3 separate regions of the Homo sapiens genome follow, and all the other regions are linked to region 3. Evidence: fine-mapped expression QTL. A gene starts in region 3. Each other region holds a variant in brackets. All regions are shown on one strand. Distances are from middle to middle.

Region 1 (10,877 bases), 29 kb after region 3:
CCCAGCACTTTGGGAGGCCAAGGCGGGTGGATCACCTGAGGTCAGGAGTTCGAGACCAGCCTGGCCAACATGGCAAAACTCCATGTGTACTAAAAATACAAAAATTCACCAGGCATGCTGGTGCACACCTGCAATCTCAGCTACTTGGGAGGCTGAGGTAGGAGAATCGTTTCAACCCAGGAGGTGGAGGTTGCAGTGAGCCGAGATTGTGCCACTGCACTCCAGCCTGGGTGACACAGAGAAACTCTGTCTCAAAAAATAAAATAAAATAAAAATATTTAAAATGCATCAAAGACCTTGTATGACACTGAAGAATTATCAGGAGAGAACAGGGAAAAGGACTGGAGCTCAAATAGATGGCTTAGGGGTGATTCTAAACCAGGGATATTTGTGAGTAAAGACAGCAGAGACATAAAGCTTGGCTTTTGCCATTCTCAAGAGTAGAGTGGGCCGGGTACAGTGGCTCATGCCTGTAATCCCAGCAGGTGGTAGGCCAAGGTGGGAAGATCACATGAGCCCAGGAGTTTTACACCAGCCTGGGCAAAATAGTAAGACCCCATCTCTTTAAAAAAAAAAAAAAAAAAAAACAGCCAGGTGTGGTGGCATGCACCTGTAGTCCCAGCTACTTGGGGGGCTGAGGCAGGAGGATCGCTTGAACCTGGGAGGTCAAGGCTGCATTGAGCTGAGATTGCGACACTGCACTCCAGCCTGGGTAACAAGGTGAGACCCCGTGTCCAAAAAACAAGAGAGATAGAGTGAACATGGGTGAAAGTCCTTCAGCAACTGGGAAGGTAAACTTTAGAGAAGCATCTTCTGCTGTTTGTTGAGACTCTAATCCATGGGCATTCACTGAAAGGCAGAGATGTATTTTTGGTGGCTTTCATGCATTAGCACAATGGGAGTTGGAGCTTAACGTTCACCAAATGGAAGATGCTATGTAACAGTCCCTGTACTGGGTTGAAAACTGAAGAATTTTACTCTGTTTGTTGGGGTAGACTGTACTCCCAGGAATTTTTCTGTGTGGCCACAGAACTTCAAACCATGTGTCTGAACTGTTAAATACCTTAGATATCTAATAGTGGAAACTGTTCAGAGTAAGATAATAGTGCCTTAGGTCTTAACGGTATACATAAAAGTATTTTTTCAAATAAAATGTCCAGAAAACAATCAAATATCACAAAGCAGGTAATAAAGCAGGGCAGCCAGAACAATAGAAACAACAGACTACAGAAACATGGACACACACAGACACACAAGGACTCCAGATGTTGGAATTATCAGACACAGATTGTAACACTTACTATGTTGAAGGAAATGAAAGTCCAATTTTAAGATCTCAGTGGCCGGGCAGTGCAGCTCACACCTGAAATTCCAGCACTGTGCAAGGCTGAGGCACAGATCACTTGAGACCAGGAGTTCAAGAGCAGCCTGGGCAACATAGCGAGACCTCATCTCTGTAACAAACAATAACAAACAAAAATTTAAAAATAAGTTTGTGGATTTAGGCATGTTTGTTATGTTTCAATTCACTGCAGTTATTGTCCTGATTGATTTCAAAATATTCTTTTTTTTTTTTTGTCCAGTGGAAGCCTCTTCAAGTTGGCCTTTGAGTTCTTTTGACACAACCCTAGTCACCAATAAAGTTATCTTTTTATTTATTTATTTATTTGTCTATTCTTTGAGAAGGAGTCACATTCTGTTGTCCAGGCTGGAGTGCAGTGGTGTGATCTCCATTCACTGCAACCTCCACCTCCCGGATTCAAGCGATTCTCCTGCCTCAGCCACCTGAGTAGCTGGGATTACAGGCACATGCCACCACGCCTGGCTAATTTTTATATTTTTAGTAGAGACGGGGTTTCAAAGTGTTGGCCAGGCTGGTCTTTAACACCTGACCTCGTGATCCGCCTGCCTCGGCCTCCCAAAGTGCTGAGATTACAGGCGTAAACCACTGCGCCCAGCCTAAAGTTATCTTTAACTTCATTCTGTGGTTTTATTATTACTTTTTCCTTTTTTTTTTTTTTGAGACTGAGTCTCGCTCTATCATCCGGGCTGGAGTGCAGTAGTGCGATCTTGGCTCACTGCAACCTCTGTCTCCCAGGTTCAAGGCCTGAGCCTCCCGAGTAGCTGGGATTACAGGTGCCTGCCAATATGTGCAGCCAATTTTTGAATTTTTAGTAGAGACAGGATTTGGCCGCTATCGGGGGAAATTCACCCCCAATATTTCACATAGCTTCTTTTCTATATTCCCTAAGAGTCGGCCGGTCTGAGAAATAAAGGGACAGAGTACAAAAAAGAGAAATTTTAAAGCTGGGTGTCCAGGGAAGACATCACATGTCGGCAGGTTCCGTGATGACTAATAAAAACCAGCAAGTTTTTATTAGTGATTTTTTCAAAAGGGGAGGGAGTGTACGAATAGGGTGTGGGTCACAGAGATCACATGCTTCACAAGGTAATAAGATATCACAAGGTAAATGGAGGCAGGGCGAGATCACAGGACCACAAGACGGGACAAATTAAAATTGCTAATGAAGTTTCGGGCACGCATTGTCATTGATAACATCTTATCAGGAGACAGGTTTGAGCAGACAACTGGTCTGACCAAAATTTATTAGGCGGGAATTTCTTCGTCCTAATAAGCCTGGGAGCGCTACGGGAGACTGGGGCTTATTTCATCCCTACAGCTTCGACCATGAAAGACGGCCGCCCCACAAAGCGGCCATTTCAGAGGCCTACCCTCAGGGACACACTCTCTTTCTCAGGGATGCTCCTTGCTGAGAAAAAGAATTCAGCAATATTTCTCCCATTTGCTTTTGAAAGAAGAGAAATATGGCACTGTTCCACCCGGCTCACCGGCAGTCAGAGTTTAAGGTTATCTCTCTTGTTCCCTGAACATTGCTGTTATCCTGTTCTTTTTTCAAGGTGCCCAGATTTCATATTGTTCAAACACACATCCTCTACAAACAATTTGTGTTAACACAATCATCACAGGGTCCTGAGGTGACATACATCCTCCTCAGCTTACCAAAATGACGGGATTAAGAGATTAAAGACAGGCATAGGAAATCACAAGGGTATTGATTGGGGAAGTGATAAGCGTCCATGAAATCTTCACAATTTACATTCAGAGATTGCAGTAAAGACAGGCGTAAGAAATTATAAAAGTATTAATTTGGGGAACTAATAAATGTCCATGAAATCTTCACAATCCACGTTCTTCTGCCATGGCTTCAGCCAATCCCTCCGTTTGGGGTCCCTGACTTCCCACAACAGGCCACGTTGGCCAGGCTGGTCTCAAACTCCTGAGCTAAAAAATTAGCCGGGCGTGGTGGCAGACGCCTGTAGTCCCAACTACTCGGGAGGCTGAGGCAGGAGAATGATGTGAACCCGGGAGGAGGAGTTTGCAGTGAGCTGAGATCACGCCACTGCACTCTAGCCAGCCTGGGCGGGAAAAAAAAAAAAAAAAAAAGAGAGAGACAAACTCAATAGAAAAATGAGAAAAGAGTTGAACTGGGCCGGCATGGTGGCTCATGCCTGTAATCCCAGCACTTTGGGAGGCCGAGGTGGGTAGATCACTTAAGGTCAGGAGTTTGAGACCAGCCTGGCCAACATGGTCAACATGGTGAAACCCCCTTTCTACTAAAAACCCAAAAAAATTAGTCGTGCCTGGTGGTGCGTGCCTGTAATCCCAGCTACTCGGGAGGCTGAGGCAGGAGGATTGCTTGAACCTGGGAGGTGGAGGTTGCAGTGGGCCGAGATCGCACCACCGCTCTCTAGCCTGGGCAACAGAGGAAGACTATCTCAAAAAAAAAATAAATAAATAAGCCAGTTGCAGTGGCTCATGCCTGTAATCGTAGCACTTTGGGAGGCCGAGGCAGGTGGATTGCTCTGAGCTCAGGAGTTCAAGACCAGCCTGGGCAACACGGTGAAACCCCGTCTCTACTAAAAATACAAAAAAAAAAGCCGGGATGGCAACGTGCCCCTGTAGTCCCAGCTACTTGGGAGGCTGAGGCAAGGGAATTGCTTGAATCCAGGAGGCGGAGGTTGCAGTGAGCCAAGAGCGCACCATTGCACTCCAGCCTGGGCAACATAGCAAGACTCTGTCTCAAAAAAAAAAAAAAGTTGAACTGATACTTCACAAAAGATGATATCCCAAAAGCCAAACCTGTCTGAAAATGTGATCAACCTCATTAATATTTAGGTAAATGCAAATAAAAACTACAATGAGAAGCCATCGCATATCCAAAAACTTTACCCTAAAAGTGTGGCAATACTGGCTGGGCATGGTGGCTCAGGCCTGTAATCCCAACACTTTGGGAGGCTGATGCAGGCAGATCACGAGGTCAAGAGATCAAGACTATCCTGGCCAACATGGTGAAACCCATCTCTACTAAAAATACAAAAATTAGCTGGGTGTGGTGGTGCGCTCCTGTAGTCCCAGCTACTCGGGAGGCTGAGGCAGAAGAATTGCTTGAACCCGGGAACCAGGAGGTGGAGGTTGCAGTGAGCTGAGATTGCGCCACTGCACTCCAGCCTGGGCAACAGAACAAGACTGTCTCAAAAAAAAAACAAAAAACAAAAAGTGTGGCAATACCATGTGTTAATGGAGCTGGAGATAACTGGGAACTCTGACACATTGCTAGAGGAGTGTGAGTTGGTCCAACCAGTTTGATTTGCAGACCATAGATAAAAAAGATAGGAAACTCTCTGATTCATTTTATCTGGCAACCTGCTCTTTCTACCAAAAGCAGATAAAGAATATACCAAAAAGAAACTACAGCCCAATCTCATTTATCATAATAGATTTTAAAAATTCTAAATAAAGCAGTAAAACAAATGGGTAGTATAATTTGTTCCAGCAGATTTTATTCCAGAAACACAAAGATGGTTAAATATCAAGAATACTGCCACCATAATTTATTACATCAAAATCTTTTTTTTTTCTTTTGAGACGGAGTTTCATTCT[T/C]GTTGCCCAGGTTGGAGTGCAATGGCACAATCTCAGCTCATTGCAACCTTCGCCTCCTGGATTCAAGGATTCTCCTGCCTCAGCCTCCCCAGTAGCTGGGATTACAGGCATGCACCACCACACCCACCTAGTTTTTTTTTTTTTTGTTTGTTTGTTTTGTATTTTTAGTAGTGATGAGGTTTCACCATGTTGGCCAGGCAGGTCTCGAACTCCTGACTTCAGGTGATCCACCCGCCTTGGTCTCCCAAAGTGCTGGGATTACAGGTGTGAGCTACCACGCCCAGCCTTGAAATTGCTGTTTCTAACAAGTCTTAAAAGACACCCAGACTTTAACAATTGTTATTATATTCAGATTTTTTTGTTGCTTTTTGAGACAATCTTGCTCTTTTACCCAGTCTTGAGTGCAGTAGCATGATCATGGCTCACTGCAGCCTCAACCTCCTGGGCTCAAGCGATTCTCCCACCTCAGCCTCCCGGGTAGCTGGGACTACATGTGCAGTATCATGCCTGGTTAATTTTTAAATTTTTAGAGATGGGGTCTTGCTATGTTGCCCAGGCTTCTAGAATCATTCTTCATATTATTTCACTAACACAGCCTCCACCACATTAATATGGCAACAGGTTTAGAAATTATTTAAAACAAAAATTTCTAATGTTTACATATATTGTGTGATGTGTGTGTGTGTGTGTGTGTGTGTGTGTGTGTGTATCATTCCAAGGTACTGTTTCTAATTTTTTCCTGTAGGGAATGAATATTCAGTATTGCAGCTGCATTGGCTAGCTGGGGATTCTATTTACCACCACATTGTCCCGGACTGAATCTGGGGACAAAAAAACCACTTCGGGAACAAATTCTTGTCTTCAACAAAGAGCTGTCTTGAGTAGGCACAAAAGTAGCATTTGAGGGCCGGACGCGGTGGCTCAAGCCTGTAATCCCAGCACTTTGGGAGGCCGAGGCGGGCGGATCACGAGGTCAGGAGTTTGAGACCAGCCTGGCCAATATGGTGAAACCCTATCTCTACTAAAAACACAAAAATAGCCGGGCGTGGTGGTGGGCGCCTGTAATCCCAGCTACTCGCGAGGCTGAGGCAGGAGAATTGCTTGAACACGGGAGGCGGAAGTTGTATTGAGCCAGAGATCGCGCCATTGCACTGCAACCTGGGCGACCGAGTGAGACTCCGACTCAAAAAAAAAAAAAAGTAGCATTTGAGTACCTTTTTTTTCCTTTTCTTTTCTTTTTTTTTTAGAGGAAGGGCACCCAGGCTGGAGTGCAGTGGCACCATAATAGCTCACTGCACTCTGCAACTGCTGAGCTCAAGAGATTCTCCTCCATCAGCCTCCCTAGTAGCTGGAATTACTGGCGTGAGGCACCATGCCCGGCTTATTTTCTTATTTTTTTGTAGAGGTGGTTGGAGCGGGGGGACTGGGGAGGGTCTCGCTATGTTGCTCAGGCTCGTCTCGAACTCTTGCCCTGAAATGATCCGTCCTCGGCCTCGCAAAGCGCTGAGATTACAGGCGTGAGCCACGGCGCCCAGCCTTGAATAGTTTTTCACATGCATTGCACGTTATTTCCTTTTATTCTCTAGTTTTTGGGTCCAGTCTTAAACCTGGGAAGGGATTCATTTGGGGGGGTCACACCAGCGGGCATCCTGGCTCAGGCGGAACTCTGGCTCCAGACAGTGCGCCCAGGACCAAACGGTCAACCCCGGCCTACTCCCGCCCCTCCCAGATCCTCCCCTCCTCGGACGCTCCCGCGTCTTCCTCTCGCTCAGGCACTGAGGGGCGGGGAGATGGGTGTTAAAGAGGGGATATCACCAATCAACGTGCGCCTCCGGGAAACAGCGCTTCGCACTGGCTGGTTGGGTCTGACGACGTGGCCACTGTCCAATCCTCATGCTAGAGGCGGGGCTAAAGGCCAGTGGCGCAAGCAGAAGGAGGAGCGCAGCGGCTGCAAGCACGTGACCGGGGCCTGAAGCCGGAAGCTACCTATCTGGTAGGGAGCTCCCCCAGCACCGAAGACTGCGATGGTGAGTGAGGACGCATGCGCGAGAGGACCCGCCGGGGGTTCAGCGTCTCTGCTCCCCAGTCTGTGTGGTTTCCCCCTGGTGGGCCTGCGCTCCACCCTCACCTCCTATCCGCTCGGGGAGGAAGAGGGGATGGAAATGGGAGGGATGGCGACGAGAATGCTGGGGAGGGGTCTGTGGGAGGGTGTTCTGGGGCTGCGGGTAGTCTGCAGGTCGGGCGGAGACGAAGGGAGGTGAAGAGAGGGTCTGGGGGCAGGGGCCAGTGGGGCAGCAAAGGCCCCTTGGGGTAGCAAAGGTGGGATGTGGAAGGCCAGGGGAGCCCGGGGGCGAGAGTGGGGGCAGATGGAGGCTCGGGAAGATCAGTATTGAGGACCATGTAGGGGGGAGGGGGCCGGGAAGGGACCTGGCTGGGGAATGAGAAAACCTGGGGCCATCGTCAACCCAGAGACTTGGGTTTGCAGGTGAAGGGTATCGGGCCGTCCATCCCTCTAGCATGCTTCTCACGACTTGCATCTTTACCCACTAGACTTCTGCGCTGACCCAGGGGCTGGAGCGAATCCCAGACCAGCTCGGCTACCTGGTACTGAGTGAAGGTGCAGTGCTGGCGGTGCGTTCTGGGAAAGGGAGGGGGTCCCTTAGTGCACACAGCCCGGTAACCCCTTCTAATATTGGCCCTTCTTTTCTCGGCTTTTATCTGGTTTCCTGCCTGGCATCTATTAGGTTGGTACAAAAGTATTTGCAGTTTTTGCAATTACTTTCAGTAATCAGTCTGTGGAATCTTAGTCTCCTAACGGCTGCGATTTATTTATTTATAGTTTTTGAGACTGAGTTTCGTTCTTGTTGCCCAAGCTGGAGTGCAGTGGTGCGACCTCGGCTCACTGCAACCTCCGCCTCCGGGGTTCAAGCGATTCTCCTGCCTCAGCCTCCCGAGTAGCTGGGATTATAGGCACGTGCCACCATGCTCTGCTAATTTTTTGTATTTTTAGTAGAAACGGGGTTTCACCGTGTTAGCCAGGCTGGTCTCAAACTCCTGACCTCAGGTGATCCACCTGCCTCAGCCTCCCAAAGTGCTGGGATTACAGGCGTGAGCCAACATGCCTGGCCTTTATTTGGTATTTCTTAAAAAGGCATTTGTATTTTGTTCCATAGTACTGTATGGTGTTAGGTCTCTAGATTACAGGCGTGAGCCACCACGTCTGGCCTTTATTTGGTATTTCTTAAAGAGGCATTTGTATTTTGTTCCATAGTACTGTATAGTGTTAAGTCTCCAGATGTTTTTGACTTAGGTAGAGACAAAGCTTAAGGTTAAGGGTTGAAAACAATACAGGTGGTAAAGACTATTGAGGGAATCCAGGATATTAAAAATTCAACATGTTATGACAAGGTAACTAACTTTCCGGGAGGTAGGAATTCAGCCCACCTTAAAGGAGAGTATTTACAGTGGGGGAGGACTTATTTGCAGGTGTGTGGCACTAACCTATCTGAACTGATGGTAAGTTTATGCTGAAAAGATTTGGGAAGGTTTGAGGGAAGAGAGGAGGATATGGTCAGGGAGGATGTAATTGTGAAGGATCTTCAAGGCCAGGTTAACACACTTGAACTTATTCTTGAAGGTAATACAGTTTGAAAGGTTTTTTAAAACAGAAACAAGACCCAGTGAGGTGGTTGAGCAATATTGTTGTTAGTGATGTGAAGATGGGCAGAAGGAGGCGTCATTAAGAGATGAGACTGGGCTGGGCGTGGTGGTTCATGCCTGTAATTCTAGCACTTTGGGAGGCCAAGGCGGGCGGATCACGAGGTCAGGAGATCGAGACCATCCTGGCCAACACGGTGAAACCCCGTCTGTACTAAAAATACAAAAACAAAATTAGCCAGGCCTGGTGGCGGGCACTTGTAGTCCCAGCTACTCGGGAAGCTGAGGCAGTAGAATGGCGTGAACCTGGAAGGTGGAGGTTGCAGTTAGCCGAGATCACACCACTGTACTCCAGCCTGGGCGACAGAGCAAGACTCCGTCTCAAAAAAAACAAAAAAAAAAAGAGATGAGACTGGGCAAGTGGTGGTAAGAAGGAGGAGCAAGGAGAGAAGAGTTTTGTTTTTGTTTTTTTTTGTTTTTGTTTTTTGAGACAGAGTCTCGCTCTGTGGCCCAGGCTGGAGTGCAGTGGCATGATCTCAGCTCACTGCAACCTCCGTCTTCCGGGTTCAAGTGATTTTCCTGCCTCAGCCTCCTGATTAGCTAGGATTACAGGTGTGCACCACCATGCCCAGCTAATTTTTGTATTTTTAGTAGAGAGAGGGTTTCACCATGTTGGCCGGGCTGGTCTCGAACTCCTGACCTCATGATTTGCCCGCCTCAGCCTCCCACCCAAAGTGCTGGGATTACAGGCATAAGCCACTGCACCCGGCCTGTTTTTTTGTTTTTGTTTTTGTTTTTTTTGAGACGGAGTCTCACTCTGTCACCCAGGCTGGAGTGCAGTGGTGCAGTCTCCCCTCACTGCAAGCTCCGCCTCCCGGGTTCACGCCATTCTCCTGCCTCAGCCTCCCTAGTAGCTGGGACTACAGGCGCCCGCCACCATGCCCGGCTACTTTTTTGTATTTTTAGTAGAGATGGGGTTTCACCATGTTAGCCAGGATGGTCTGGATCTCCTGACCTCGTGATCCGCCTACCTCGGCCTCCCAAAGTGCTGGGATTACAGGTGTGAGCCACAGCACCCCGTCCTGTTTTTTTGTTTGTTTGTTTTTTTTTAAGATAGAGTCTCGCCGTCACTCAGGCTGGAGTGCAGTGGTAACGATCACATCTCATTGTAGCCTTGAACTCCTGGGCCCAAGCAATCCTCCCGCCTCAGCATCCCAAGTAACTAGAACTACAGGCAAGCACCACCACGCCCAGCCATTAAAAAAAAAAAAAAAATGTGTGGAGACAGGGGCCTTGCTATGTTGCCCAGGCTGGTCTCAAACTCCTGGCCTCCAGCATTCCTCCTGCCTTGGCCTCCCAGAGTGCTGAGATTACAGGCATGAGCTCCTGTGCTTGGCTGGAAGAAGTTATTTTAAAGGAGGAATCAGTATATCTTGCTAATGACTAGAAATAGGTAATAGAGGAAATATTTCTGTAGCCAGAACTCTAAAGCCTGGAAGAGTGATGATGCCTTAAGAAACATGTCCCTGCGTGGTGGCTCACGCCTTTAATCCCAGCACTTTGGGAGGCTGAGGTGGGTGGATCACTTGAGGTTGGGAGTTCGAGAGCACCCTAGCCAACATGGTGAAACCTCATCTCTACAAAAAATTAGCCTGGCATGGAAGCACATGCATGTAATCCCAGCTTCTTGGGAGGTTGAGGCAGGAGAATTGCTTGAACCCAGGAGGCAGAGGTTGCAGTGAGCCAAGATTGCACCACTGTACTCCAGCCTGGGTGATAGAGTGAGACTCTGTCTCAAAAAACAAACAAACAAACAGGAAATCAAAAAAAGAAGTGGATTGGGAAGGAGGTGGATAAGGATAAGGTGAAATTTGATGGCCCAACTTTAGACATTGAGTTTGATATAAAATAGCAGTTAATATATATTGCTAGTTCAGCAAAAGGAACTAAATCTAGTGGAGGCCCATATCAAGGAAGAGGGAAGAGGAAGTTGAGACAGTCACCAGAAAAGAGGAAGCCCAAGCCACTGTCCCATCACTTACTCTAGGGGTCAACAGAGGGAGGTATTCAAGGACAAAGGGAATGTTTATGTTTGAGATTCTGCAAACAGGGCAGCAAGTGTGAAGACAGAAAAAGATGGAGCCATTAACAGGTAAGTGGTGGGCAGGCATTCATTTTGGAGAATGTGGCTTTATCAAATAGGCAGGGACATGGGAGAAATCCAGTTTTATGGGGTTAGAAAAGCATGGTCAATAAA
Region 2 (6,363 bases), 33 kb before region 3:
TGTAATTGAGCTCATTCAAGCTGAGCGCTCTCCAGTAGGGACTTTCCCCTGTAGGGAGCATGCGCATTTTGATTTCACCTGTCCTCAAACTGACCCTTTGCTCATTATCTTGGTAAAAAACACGCCCCTGGGTGGAAATTTAAGATGCTAATGAAACATGCAATGTATGAACAAGCCTGTACACCCACTGCGCATGTGCACCTAGAGGACCACCCAGAACATACTTACTAGTAACACTTCTCCCACCCCCTTATGAATAATCGTGTAAGACCCCTTACAAAGGGGGTCTCTCTAGAGCCAGCCTTTGCTGTTTCATCCTTAGGAGCAGCCCTCCCTGAACTAACTCTCTCTCTATCTCTCTCTCTCCCAGGGTGTACTGTCTACTCTGCACTTAACTTTCAAAATACTATTTTCCTTTTGCAATAAATTACTCTATGCTGGATTTCCTTTGACATGTGTTTCTTTTATTCTTTTTCCTTTTTTTTTTTTTTTTTTTGTTGTTGTTGTTGTTGAGAGGGAGTCTCACTCTTGTCACCCAGGCTGATTCTCGTGCCTCAGCCTCCCAAGTAGCTGGGACTACAGGCGTGTGATACCATACCCGGCTAATTTGTGTGTATTTTTAGTAGAGACAAGGTTTCACCATGTTGGTCAGGCTTGTCTCGAACTCCTTACCTCAAATGATCTGCCGCCTCAATCTCCCAAAGTGCTGGGGTTACAGGTGTGAGCCACCGCGCCCGGCCTCCTGTGTGTTTCTTGTTTAAATTTTTTTTTTCTTTTGAGACGGGGGTCTTACTCTGTCACCCAGGCTGGAGTGCAGTGTTGTGATTTCGGCTCACTGCAACCTCCACCTCACAAGGTCAAGTGATCCTCCCACCTCAGCCTCCCAAGTAGCTGGAACCCCAGATGCATGCCACCACGCCCGGCTACTTTTTTGTAGAGACAGAGGGTTTTCACCATGTTGCCCAGACTGGTCTCAAACTCCTGAGCTCAAGGGATCCGCCCACCTCAGCCTCCCAAAGTGTTGGGATTACAGGTGTGAGCCACTGCACCCAGCCTTAAATCCTTTTAAACTAAGAAGATAAGAAATGAGGTATCACAATAGCCATCAATAGAAGGAAAGCACCTCATCATGTTCATGCTTTCCTCTGCCTTCTTCAACATATGAAGTCTTTTTTTTTTTTTTTTTTTTAGAGACAGGGTCTCACTCTGTCACCCAGGCTGGAGTGCAGTGGCGCGATCCTACCTCACTACAGCCTCAACCTCCTGGACTCAGGCGATCCTCCCTCCTCAGCTTCCAGAGTAGCTGGGACCACAGGCACGCACCATCACACCTGGCTTCCTTTCTGTTTTGTAGACTGGGTGCTGCCAGTTCATGAATCCCTAATAAAGCCAACTCAATCTTTAAAATTCAATTTGTTGGCCGGGTGCAGTGCTTCACGCCTGTAATCCCAGCACTTTGGGAGGCCGAGGCAGATAGATCACCTGAGGTCAGGAGTTTGAGACCAGCCTGGCCAACATGGTGAAACCCTGCCTCTACTAAAAATACAAAAACAAAAATTAGCCGGGAGTGGTGGCAGGCACCTGTAATCCCAGCTACTTGGGAGACTGAGGTGGCAGAATGGCTTGAACCTGGGAGGTGGAGGTTGCAGTGAGCCGAGATCGCACCACTGCACTCCAGCCTGGGAGCGACAGAGGGATACTCCATCTCTGTATATATATACGTATCCTGAAGTATGTTTATGGTCTGTTTCCTACAACTAGGGTATAAGCTCCATGAGGTCAGGACTTCGTTTTGTTTAGTGATGTACCTGCTGCCTGGTAGGCACTCCCAAATATTTGTTAAATTAATGACTGATAGGTGAATAGATAACCACTGACCCATACCAAAAAGGAGCACTTGCTTTTTGTTCGTTTTTGTTTTTGGGGTGGGGATATTTTTTTGGTTTGTTTGTTTGTTTGTTTTGAGACAAACAAATATGGCGAAACTCTATCTCTACAAAAAATACAAAATTTAGCCTGGCGTGGTGGCACGCATTTGCAGTCCCAGCTACTTGGGAGGCTGAGATGGGACAGTCACTTGAGTTCAGGAGGTTGAGGCTGCACTGAATTGTGATTGTAACACTGCACTCCAGCCTGGGTGACAGAGCAAGACTCTGTCTCAAAAACAACAATAACAAACACAAAACAAAACAAAAACAAAAAAAAAGAAACGTTTAGCAAACTTAGTTCTAAAATGCGCACAATCAACTGATTCAATGTCAAAGTCATCCTTAAATTCCACAATAATCTCTTGTTTTATGAGCTGTATAATTATCTGAACAATGTTTCAAAAGCACCTGAAACAACAAGGCAAAGGAGTTCTTTAATGTGTGAGAGAGCAGTGCAAACGATCAACTTTACTAACCCTAGAATAATTCTCATCTTGTTTTTATTTTAGCCTTCTATCTAGCTGAGAAGCACTATGCTCCTTGGAAGCTGCCTAGCATTCTTTAAAGAGAGACATTTTTCTGGCCAGGCACGGTGGCTCACACCTGTAATCCTAGCACTTTAGGAGGCCGAGGCAGGTGGATCGGTTGAGGCCAGGAGTCTGAGAACTGACTAGCCAACATGCTGAAAACCCATCTCTACTAAAAATACAAAAATGAGCCAGGTGTGGTGGCGCAAGCCTGATATCTCAGCTACTTGGGAGGCTGAGGCACAAGAATCACTTGAACCCAGGAGGTGGAGGTTGCAGTGAGCCAACATCTCACCAAAGAGATACATTTTTCTGACCTGGTTTTTCCAAATAGAAACAAGGCATTAGGTACTTTTCTTTGACAACCCTCTCAGTTTGTCCAGACCTGGTTGGTTTATCACTGGGGACTAGAATAAAATAAATTCCTTTTTAACTTCCCTTTGGCGAGAAGACCCCTCTTCCTGCAGGATTTCTCAAGTCCGTTCCATTGAGGGTTGCTGGCCCCTTCAAGTTTCCTTCATCCAGGCTCCTAAACGGAGAGATTGCATAATTCCCCTGTAAATTACAACTATCACCATATGGGGCTGTTCAGGGTCATAACACAGTTCTTCACCTGCTTTCTAGGAGCTTACACTTTGGGTGGGGATACAGACACCTAGAGCCAGAGTATGTCTGGCTCTTTCTAGGTGTCTGTACCCCTCTTTGTAGGGGTGGCAGGAGGAGCAGTGTGTGCAACTTGCTTAGGTTTAGGGGTAAGGAGGGGGTGGAGCAGCCTAGGCTAGCCAGATGTGAATTTTGGGTTTTTTTATGAGACAGAGTCTTGCTTTGTCAACCAGGCTGGAGTGTGGTGGTGTGATCTCGGCTCGCTGCAACCTCCG[C/T]CTCCCGGGTTCAAGTGATTCTCCTCCCTCAGCCTCTCGAGTAGCTGGGATTACAGGCATGCACCACCACGCCTGGCTAATTTTTGTATTTTTAGTAGAGATGGGGTTTCACCATCTCTACTGGTCGAGACCAGGCTGGTCTTGAACTCCTGACTTCAGGTGATTCACCCACCTCGGCCTCCCAAAGTGCTGAGATTACAAGCATAAGCCACTGTGCCTGGCCAGGAACTCAGTATTTAAGGGAAGAAAGCATGCAAGAGGAAAATAAGGAAGAAGGAGAGGCAGTGAGGCAAATGTTTTTTGTTTTGTTTTGTTTTGTTTTTCTTAAGACAGTGTCTCGCTCTGTCAGCAGGCTGGAGTGCAGTGGCGCAATCTCGGCTCACTGCAACCGCTGCCTCCCAGGTTCAAGCGATTCTTGTGCCTCAGCCTCCCAAGTAGCTGGTACTACAGGTGCGTGTCACCATGCCCAGCTAATATTTTGTATTTTTAGTAGAGACGGGGTTTCACAGTGTTAGCCAGGATAGTCTCAATCTCTTGACCTTGTGATCTGCCTGCCTCGGCCTCCCAAAGTGCTGGGATTACAGGCGTGAGCCACTGCACCCAGTCCAGCAAATGGTTATTTTATTTTATTTTTTGAAATAGAGTCTCAATCTGTTGCCCAGGCTGGAGTCCAGTGGGTCCATCTCGGCTCACTGCAATCTCCACCTCCTAGGCTCAAGTGATTCTCCTGCCTCAGCCTCCCAAGTAGCTGAGATTACAGGTGGGCACCACCACACCCAGCTAATTTTTGTATTTTTAGTAAAGATGGGGTTTTGCCATGTTGGCCAGGCTGGTCTTGAACTCCTGGCCTCAAGTGATCCACTCGCTTCCCAAAGTGCTGCGATTACAGGCATGAGCCACTGCACACCCTGCTGCACATTGTTACTTTTTTGTGAGTTTCTCATTAGTGTTCAGTAAATCTACATTTTATGTAAGATACAATAAACATTTGAAAAGAGGGAGTGGAGGAAAAAGTCAGTTATGCATCTGTCTCAGGATAGGTGGAGGGATGATTCCTGGTCTCTTCCTTGTTCTATAATTGGGAAGATAAGCTTGTAATCAACATTGTCAGTATGAGATTTCACAGAACTCGGATTAGGGCTGGTTTATAGGGGGAATGTTTATGCTGAAAGATTCAGAGGCTAATGAGGAATTTCCTGGCAAGCAATTTGTGAGGAAGACCATCTGGGGAGGTATATGCCTTTTGCCATTGTAGGAGCCTGGCTTATGTATGAGGCTATGACACAGGGTTGTGGAATTACAGCTATCTGGGAACAAAAAGGAAGGGAGTTTTGACTCACTTCCCAAGCATAAATTTCCTCGGCATGCCTCTACCATACCCAGCGAATTTTGTTTCCATGTTTTGTTGAAACAAGGTGTCACCATGTTGCCAAGGCTGGTCTCAAACTCCTGGGTTCAAGTGATCCTCCAACCTTGGCCTCCCAAAGTGCTAGGATTACAGGCGTGAGTCACCATGCCTGGCCTTGTGGAGTTATCTTCTTTCTTTCTTTCTTTCTTTCTTTTTTTTTTTTTTTTGAGATGGAGTCTCACTTTGTCTTGCCCGGGCTGGAGTGCAGTGGCGCGATCGCAGCTCACTGCAGCTTCCACCTCCCGGGTTCAAGCAATTCTCCTGCCTCAGGCTCCTGAGTAGCTGGGATTACAGGCGCCTGCCACCACGCCTGGCTAATTTTTGTATTTTTAGTAGAGATGGGGTTTCACCATGTTGGCTAGGCTCGTCTCAAACTGCTGACCTCAAGTGATTGTCTGGCCTCGGTCTCCCAAAATGCTGGTATTACAGGTGTGAGCCACCATGCCTGGCCTTGTGGGGTTATTTTCGAAAGTCCTTGAGATAATTCCTATCTCAGACATGCAAGCATGAGACCTTCTCCTTGGTGTTCTCATGGCTCCAATTTGTTTGGACCTGACAATGTGATTTTGTCCTGGTATCTGCAACTTTCACAAGATGGAGCAACTAACTCAACACCAGATTCCACCCCTAATTATTCCTTCATTCACTCAAAAAGTATCTAGGCTCCAATGTGTCAGGCACCGTGTTGGTCACAGGGGATACCATGATGAACAAGAGAAGGAACCACAGGCTTTTGAATGGGAAACTAAAGCATGTGAAAAACACACGGAGAGCTGGGTGCGGTGGCTCATGCCTGTAATCCCAGTGCTTTGGGAGGCTGAGGATGGAGGATCTCTTCTGCCCGGGAGTTGGAGACCAGCCTGGACAACCTAGTGAGACCCCCGTCTCTATCAAAATAAAAACAAATAATAAAATTAGCTGGGTGCGGTGGGGTGCGCCTGTAGTCCCAGCTACTCGGGAGGCTGAACTGGGAGGATCACTTGAGCCCAGGAGTTTGAGGGTGCAGTGAGCTGACATCAGGCCACTGCACTCCAGCCTGGGCGACAGAGCGAGACCCTGTCTCAAACAAAACAAAACAAACCACCACCACCACCAGACATGAGGGCCAGTGCAGCTGAAGCCTGAAGATCAAGGGCTAGAAGAGGCCAGGCCGGGGCCAGATCAGGCAGGGCCTTGCAGGTTGTGGTTAGTTGTTTGGATTTTATTGTGAGGGAAATAACACGACATGTCATTCCTTCTGCAACAGCCTTAAGAACTAGGCGTTCTTATCCCAATTTCACAGACGAGGACGATCAAGTCGTTAATTTGTCAAAGGTCACCCGCAGGCGACAGGCGGGGACAGGGTCTGGGAAAACCCGCTAGGCACCGAGGCCCAGAGGGCGTCGGGCGTCCCCGCACCGAGTGCCGCCCGCCGCGACCCGGGAACTGCCTGCTCCCCGGACGCCAGGCCCGCCGCACGCCGCGGGGACACCGAACATGCGCCGCTCGCCTTACGGAAGCCGGGAAGGAAGGGGGCGGGGCCGAGGCTGGCGGGCGCGGGGAAAATGGCGGCGGCGGCGGCGGCGGCTGCAGCTACGAACGGGACCGGAGGAAGCAGCGGGATGGAGGTGGATGCAGCAGGT
Region 3 (7,683 bases):
TACTAAAAATACAAAAATTAGCAGGGCGTGGTAGTGCACACCTGTAATCCCAGCTACTAGGGAGACTAAGGCACGAGAATCACTTGAAACCAGAGGGCAGAGGTTGCAGTGAGCCGAGATCACGCCACTGCACTCCAGCCAGGGTGACTCCGTCTCAGGAAAAAAAAAAAAAAAATCTGGACTGGGCCTAGTGGCTCATGCCTGTAATTCCAACACTCTGGGAGCCCAAGGTAGGAGGATCGCTTGAGCCCAGCAGTTCACGACCAGCCTGGACAACACAGTGAGACCCCATCTGTACAAAAAATACAAAAATTAGCTGGGTATGCAGGCACAGGGCTGTTGTTCTAGCTACTCAGGAGGCAGAGGTGGGAAAACTGATAGAGCCCAGGAGCTCCTAGGCTCAAGCAATCCTCACACCTCAGCCTCCCAAGTAGCTGGGACTATAGGTGTGTACCACTACACACAGCCAATTTTTTGCAGGGGCAGGGGCAGAGACAGAGTCTCACTATGTTGTCCAGGCTGGTCTTGAACTGCTGGGCTCACGCAGTCCTCCTGCTTCGGCCTCCCAAAGTGTTGGAATTACAGGCCTGAGCCACCAGGCCCAGCCCAGATTTTTATCTTTTTCTGTTACACCTCAGGGCTTCAATCCCACCACTTTGAAGTTTTGGGCTCAAGCAATCCTCCAGCGTTGGCCTCTCAAAGTGTTGGAATTAAAGGCGTGAGCCGAAGTGTCTGGCCCAGGCTCAGCTTTCCTTATCTTCATAGCAATGCCATCCATCCAGACACTTGTTCTTTATCTGAGCCTTCACATCAAATCCACCAGGTAGGCCAGGTGCGGTGGCTCACGTCTGTAATTCCAGCAATTTGGGAGGCCAAGGTGGGTGGATCACTTCAGGTCAGGAGTTCGAGACCAGCCTGAGCAACATGGTAAAACCCTTTCTCTACTAAAAATACAAAAATTAGCTGGGCATGGTGGCGCGTGCCTGTAATCCCAGCTACTTGGGAGGCTGAGGCAGGAGAATCACTTGAGCCTCGGCAGTAGAGTTTGCAGTGAGTTGAGATTGCGCCATTGCACTCCAGCCTCAGTGACAGATGGACTCTGTCTCAAAAAAAAAAAAAAGGTAAAAAAATAAATCCGGTCGGGCGCGTTGGCTCACACCTGTAATCCCAGCACTTTGGGAGGCCGAGGCGGACGGATCACCAGGTCAAGAGATGGAGACCATCCTGGCCAACATGGTGAAATCCCATCTCTACTAAAAATACAAAAACTAGCTTGGCGTGGTGGCACGCACCTGTAGTCCCAGCTACTCGGGAGGCTGAGGCAAGAGAATCACTTGAACCTGGGAAGTGGAGGTTGCAGTGAGCCAAGATCGTGCCACTGGACTCCAGCCTGGCGACAGAGCGAGACTCTGTCTCAAAAATCAATCAATCCACCAGGTAGTCCAACCTGACTCCTCTGCTCCCACTGCTTGGCCCAGGTCACCATCATCTATCCACTGGGTAACTCCAAAAACCTCCTAACAATGTCAACCGGAGTCTACCCTTGCCTTTCTCTACATCTATTCCTAACGTTGCAGCCAAAATGCTTCTGTCAAACTGTAAAGCAGATTGTCATTTCTTTGCTCAAACCCTCATAATGGCTCTCCACTTGCCATAAAGTAAAACCTGAAATCCTTATAATGGGCAGGTGCAGTGGCTCAGCTCATGCCTGTAATCTGTGCACTTTGGGAGGGTGAGGTGGGAAGACTGCTTGGGCTTAGGAATTCCTGACCACCCTGGGCAACATAGCAAAACCCCATCTCAGGCCAGGCACAGTGGCTCACGCCTGTAATCCTAGCACTTTGGGAGACGAAGGTGGGCGGATCACTTGAGGGCAGGAGTTCAAGACCAGCCTGGCCAACATGGTGAAACCCTATCTCTACTAAAAATAAAAAAATTAGATGGGCATGGTGGCGGGCACCTGTAATCACAGCTACTCGGGAGGCTGAGGCAGAAGAATCACTCGAACCCGGGAGGCGGAGGTTGCAGTGAGCAAAGATCTGTGTCATTGCACTCCAGCCTGGGCAACAAAGCAAGACTTCTTCTCAAAAACAACAACAACAACAACAAAAAAAACAGACGAAATCCTTATAATGTCCTACAAAGCCCTTCAAAATTACCTTCTCCCCATTATATCTCTGAACGCCCTTCCTTCTTCCACTTTGATCCAGACACATACATTCCTTCTGGCTGCTCCTTAAACTTGCCAGGTATGTACTTGCTTAATAGCCTTTGCTGCATTCCCTCTGCCTGGAATGTTCTTCCCAAATATCTAATTGGCTGCCTACCCTGACCACCCTATTTAACTCTGCACTCTGCCCTCAGAGTGGGGGCAGCCCACTTTTTCTTTTCCATAGCATTTAACATCTTTTGGGCATGGCGCAGTGGCTCACGCCTGTAATCCCAACACTTTGGGAGGCCGAGGTGGGCAGATCACGAGGTCAAGAGATCGAGACCATCCTGGCCAACATGGTTAAACCCCATCTCTACTAAAAATACAAAAATTAGCTGGGCGTGGTGATGTGCACCTGTAGTCCCAGATACTCGGGAGGCTGAGGCAGGAGAATTGCTTGAACCCAGGAGGTGGAGGTTGCAGTGAGTAGAGGTTGTGCCACTGCACTCCAGCCTGGCAACAGAGTGAGACCCCGTCTCCGTCCACCATCTAGACAGGGCTCTTTTTTTTTTTTTTTTTTTTTGAGCTAGAGTTTCACTCTTGTTGTCCAGGCTGGAGAGCAATGGCGCGATCTTGGCTCACTGCAACCTCCGCCTCCCAGATTCAAGCAATTCTCCTGTCTCAGCCTCCTGCGTAGCTGGGATTACAGGCATGCGCCACCACACCTGGCTAATTTTTGTATTTTTAGTAGAGATGGGGTTTCACCATGTTGCTCAGGCTGGTCTTGAACTCCTGACCTCAGGTGTTCCACCCACCCTGGCCTCCCAAAGTGCTGGGATTACAGGCGTGAGCCACTGTGCCCGGCCGACAGAGCTCTTTATTATGTTCACTGATGTATTCCAGGAGCCCAGCCTGGGACATCATAAATATTTGTGAAGTAAATGAATTAGTTGTAAGGCTTAGAGATATTGGTGCTCAGTAAATACTTGGTATCACTATTATTAATAGGTCATAGGCCCAAGCTTTGAGCCTACACTGTAGTTAAAAGCAAACTGGGCCGGCCGTGGTGGCTCACGCCTGTAATCCCAGCACTTTGGGAGGCCGAGGCGGGCGGATCACTAGGTCAGGAGATTGAGACCATCCTGGCTAACAAGGTGAAACCTCGTCTCTACTAAAAAATAGAAAAAATTAGCCAGGCATGGTGGCAGGCACCTATAGTCCCTGCTACTCGGGAGGCTGCTGAGGCAGGAGAATGGCGTGAGCCCGGGAGGCGGAGCTTGCAGTGAGCCGAGATCGCACCACTGCACTCCAGCCTGGGCAACAGAGCCAGACTCTGTCTCAAAAAAAAAAAAAAAACAAAAAAAGCAAAGTGGAGCCAGGTGCAGTGGCTCACGCCTGTAATTTGGGAGGCCAAGGCGGGAAGATCACCTGAGGTTAGGAGTTCGAGACCACCCTGGCCAACATGGTGAAACCCTGTCTTTTTGTAAAAACACAAAAATTAACCAGACATGGTGGCGGGCGCCTGTAGTCCCAGCTATCTGGGAGGCTGAGGTGGGAGAACCGCTTGAACCAGGAAGCGGAGGTTGCAGTGAACCGAGATCGTGCCACTGCACTCCAGCCTGGGCGATAGAGAGAGACTCCATCTCAAAAAAAAAAAAAAAGCAAATTGGAGCCAAGAGAGGTAACTCACCCCAGTAATCCCAGCACTTTGGAAGGCAGAGGTGGGGGGATTGTTTGAGGCCAGGAGTTTGAGACAGCCTGGTCAACATAGTGAGACCCCCATTTCTGCAAAAATTAAAAAATTAGACGGACCTGGTGGTGTGAACCTGTCATCCCAGCTACTTAGGAGGCTGAGGCAGGAGGATCGCTTGAACTGAGGAGTTGGAGGCTGCAGTGAGCCAAGATGGTGCCACTGCACAACAGCCTGGGTAACAGACGGAAACCCTGTCTCAAAAAAAAAACAAAAAAAAATTAAAGTGGCACACTTGCAGTTGGACATTAGGAAGATTAACATATCAATACTGCTTAGGAGTAGTACAGGTAGGGTGGGGCCGTGCTGGAAGGATGGGAAGAGGGAGGCCGAAAAACAAATTGGTTCTTTTCAAACCATCCCTGATCTCCTCCCCGACTTTTATAAGTCTTATCTATAGGGAACACAACTATTCGAGACATACTCTGTGCCTGGCGCCGGGTTTACAAGAGGGGGTCGTGTCCCACTTCCCTGGCGAACTCCTACGAATCCTTCAATACCCGGCGGTACCCTCTGCCAGTAAAGGCTCATAAAACACGCTACAGTCACAGGATCTCCTCAGATCAGTGGAGGCGGCAGGAAGGCGTCCCAGGGAAGGGTTAACTTAAGCGAGATCCCAGCAGAGAAGCAGGTCGAAGATCCCCGGGCAGCGCGAAAGGAGGTTCAGAGAGCCCACCCCATCTCCTGCAACATCTCTCCAATGCAGGCACACACACGGGGTCCCCACGAGCACAGACACACAACCAACCGTCCTCTTTCCAGTCCCCACAAGGGACCTTCAAAGGGTCTCCTCCGGGGTACCACTCAGACCCGCCCCCGCCACCCGAGCGCGGGGAGCAGGAAAACTCTAGCGGCAGCCGAGACGCTGCTCACCCGGCGCTCGGCGCCATCTTGGCCCCGCCCCCTCGTGGGAGCAGGTCCTGGCAGAGCCTAAGAGCAAGTCACTGCCCCTTCCCCGTACCAGAATAAGTCCTCTAGGCTCGCAGAATGAAATTATATTTTAAAAGTTTGTTTCTACATCTATATATAAGGAGCACTCCCTCTTGGTGTAATTACTGCAATTTATTCCTTCACTACCCGGCTGCCAGGACCTTCAAGAGGCGCCACAAAACGGAGGCAGGGAAACCCGTAGCAACGAGGCCCCACCCTTGTTGGGCTGATCCTGCGCATGCGCCGACCTTCCTCGGCTGGATTTAAGGTTGCCGCTAGCCGCCTGGGAATTTAAGGGACCCACACTACCTTCCCGAAGTTGAAGGCAAGCGGTGATTGTTTGTAGACGGCGCTTTGTCATGGGACCTGTGCGGTTGGGAATATTGCTTTTCCTTTTTTTGGCCGTGCACGAGGCTTGGGCTGGGATGTTGAAGGAGGAGGACGATGACACAGAACGCTTGCCCAGCAAATGCGAAGGTATTTGAAGGGGGTAGCCCCTATAGGCATCGCCCGGCCACACCTCCTTCTTCTAGGCCGGACATCCTAGCCTGTATTGGGTGGGTCACCCGACCTCCTTGAAGGCTTGAGGGAGGTTCTGGTGGAGCTTGGCTGAATTTGGATGGGGTCAAGGAAGCGAACGTGTAGTGCCACCTCAAACTGCATCCAGAGAGAGCCTGCATTTTTTTGGCTGGCTTGGAACCCCCCGCCCGCCAATGGATTGTGGGAATTGTAGTTCAGGGACCATCGGCCCGGGACTGCCAACTTTTAGAGCATCTTCAGTGAGTGTTTACCTCATGTCACCAGACCTTAATCTGCAGAGGCTGCAGGAGCCGGGTGTGAGGCTCAGGCCTTGTGGACATCCGCTGCCCTACCCTAGCATAGACGCTCCCAAATTACAGGCCCCACACCCCGCTGAGGGGGTTTGAGGGTGAGTAATTCAGCCTTTGAAGCTCATAAACAAAAGGAAGCCACACAACTAGGAGAGTGTCCCCATCCGGTGAGACTTTGCAGACGGTGCGTACTATATGGATTTTTCAGCAAGCAGCGCCTTCCATAGCTGCACTAGCGTGGGGCCCAGTTGAGAAAGGGGGCTGGCCCTGATGCCCTAGTTTGCTGCCCTCCTGACTTTACGTTTCTTCCCTGGATTCCTTTTCTCTTCGCTTCACCCCCTCAACTGTATTCCAGTATCATGAAAGGCAGTCATGACAGTCTCATGACTTGGTCCTCATCTCTGTCTCCTTTCACCTCCGTGTGCCGCTCTTCTCCCCTGACCTGTCAATCTTTTTAAACAGACTTAATCACCTAATTGTATCAGTCCTTGCTTTAACACCTCTGCAGGCCTTCTATCAGAATACAGCCAACGGGCCTGGGCACAGTGGCTCACATCTGTAATCCCAGCACTTTGGAAGGCCAAGGTGGGAGGATCACTTGAGCCCATGAGTTCAGGCCCAGCTTCACCACAGCTTGTCATCCTTGGTTTATCTGTCCCAACTACACTGACAGAGACCTGTAGATAGAGATAATAGGTCTTATTGCTGTCTATATTGTTAGTATGCATACAGAAGGAGCTCAATAAATAACTGCAGGATAACAGTGAATACTTATACAGTGCTCACTATGTGCCAGCCTTTATATATGTTGATTTATTTAATCTTCATCACACTCCTATGAGGGACATACTATTATTATCCAATTGTATTAATTTTATATATATATATATATATATATATATTTTTTTTTTTTTTTTTTTTTTTTTTTTTTTTTTCTCTTTTCAGACAGCGTCTCATGCCGTTGCCCAGGCTGGAGTGCAGTGGTGCAATCTCGCTCACTGCAACCTCCGCCTCCCGGGTTCAAGCGATTCTCCTGCCTCAGCCTCCCAAGTAGCTGGGATTACAGGCGCCCGCCACCATGCCCAGCTAATTTTTGTATTTTTAGTAGAGACAAGGTTTCACTATGTTGGCCAGGATGGTCTCAATCTCTTGACCTCGTGATCCACCCACCTCAGCCTCCCAAAGTGTTGGGATTACAGGCATGAGTCACTGTGCTGGCCTATTTATTTTTAATGTATTTTACTTTTTTTAAGATGGAGTCTCCCTTTGTTGCCTGGGCTGGGGTGCAGTGGTGGGATCTCAGCTCACTGCAACCTCCACCTCCTGGGTTCGAGTGATTCTCCTGCCTCAGCTTCCCGAGTAGCTATTACAGGTGCGCACCACCACACCTGGCTAGTTTTTGTATTTTTAATAGAGATGGGGTTTCACCATGTGGGCCAGGCTGGTCTTGAACTCCTCAAGTGATCTGCCCGCCTCAGCCTCCCAAAGTGCTGGGATTACAGGTGTGAGCCACCACTCCTGGCCTATTATCCCATTATAAAGATGAAGAAACCGGCCGGGCGTGGTGGCTCACGCCTGTAATCCCAGTACTTTGGGAGGCCAAGGCGGGCGGATCACAAGGTCAGCTGATCGAGACCATCCTGGCTAACACGGTGAAACCCTGTCTCTACTAAAAATACAAAAAATTAGCCGGGCGTGGTGGTGGGTGCCTGTAGTCCCAGCTACTCGGGAGACTGAGGCAGGAGAATGGCGTGAACCCAGGAGGCGGAGCTGGCAGTGAGCCGAGACTGCGCCACTGCACTACAGCCTGGGCGACAGAGCGAGAGTCCGTCTGAAAAAAAAAAAAAAAAAGATGAAGAAACCGAGGCACAGCAAGCAGGAAGATTGCCACACAGCTGCTAAATGGCTGAGCCAGGATTCCAACCCAGCCAGTCTGGCTCCATAGTCTGCACTTGTATGCTCTGCTGCCTCAGGTCATCTGCAGAATGAATGGCTGGTGTGTTTGTCTTTTACCTCCCCCC

Evidence for each region. PIP is the estimated chance that this variant, and not a neighbour inherited with it, causes the effect.
Region 1: its variant is fine-mapped to the expression of CNPY4 in whole blood (INTERVAL, PIP above 0.99).
Region 2: its variant is fine-mapped to the expression of CNPY4 in unexposed skin (GTEx, PIP above 0.99). The same link has a PIP of 0.9 or more in atrial appendage, esophagus muscle, left ventricle, thyroid, visceral fat and whole blood.

What each region holds. Positions count from the first base shown.
Region 1 is chr7:100,141,986-100,152,862 of GRCh38, forward strand. It overlaps LAMTOR4 (late endosomal/lysosomal adaptor, MAPK and MTOR activator 4), which reads left to right and starts at 6,933. Exons shown (of 4, transcript NM_001008395.4): 1 at 6,933-6,990; 2 at 7,514-7,594. The coding sequence starts at 6,988. RefSeq lists enhancers at 5,936-6,548, 6,573-6,632, 6,903-7,012, 7,161-7,773 and silencers at 7,313-7,402, 7,413-7,502. The variant T/C (reference allele first, on the strand shown) is at 4,964.
Region 2 is chr7:100,082,706-100,089,068 of GRCh38, forward strand. It overlaps COPS6 (COP9 signalosome subunit 6), which reads left to right and starts at 6,264. Exons shown (of 10, transcript NM_006833.5): 1 at 6,264-6,361. The coding sequence starts at 6,286. RefSeq lists enhancers at 1-244, 4,384-5,077 and a silencer at 6,124-6,313. The variant C/T (reference allele first, on the strand shown) is at 3,334.
Region 3 is chr7:100,114,554-100,122,236 of GRCh38, forward strand. It overlaps CNPY4 (canopy FGF signaling regulator 4), which reads left to right and starts at 5,081. Exons shown (of 6, transcript NM_152755.2): 1 at 5,081-5,309. The coding sequence starts at 5,192. TAF6 (TATA-box binding protein associated factor 6) reads right to left here and starts at 4,805. Exons shown (of 15, transcript NM_139315.3): 1 at 4,651-4,805. RefSeq lists enhancers at 4,758-4,907, 5,118-5,337, 5,708-5,777.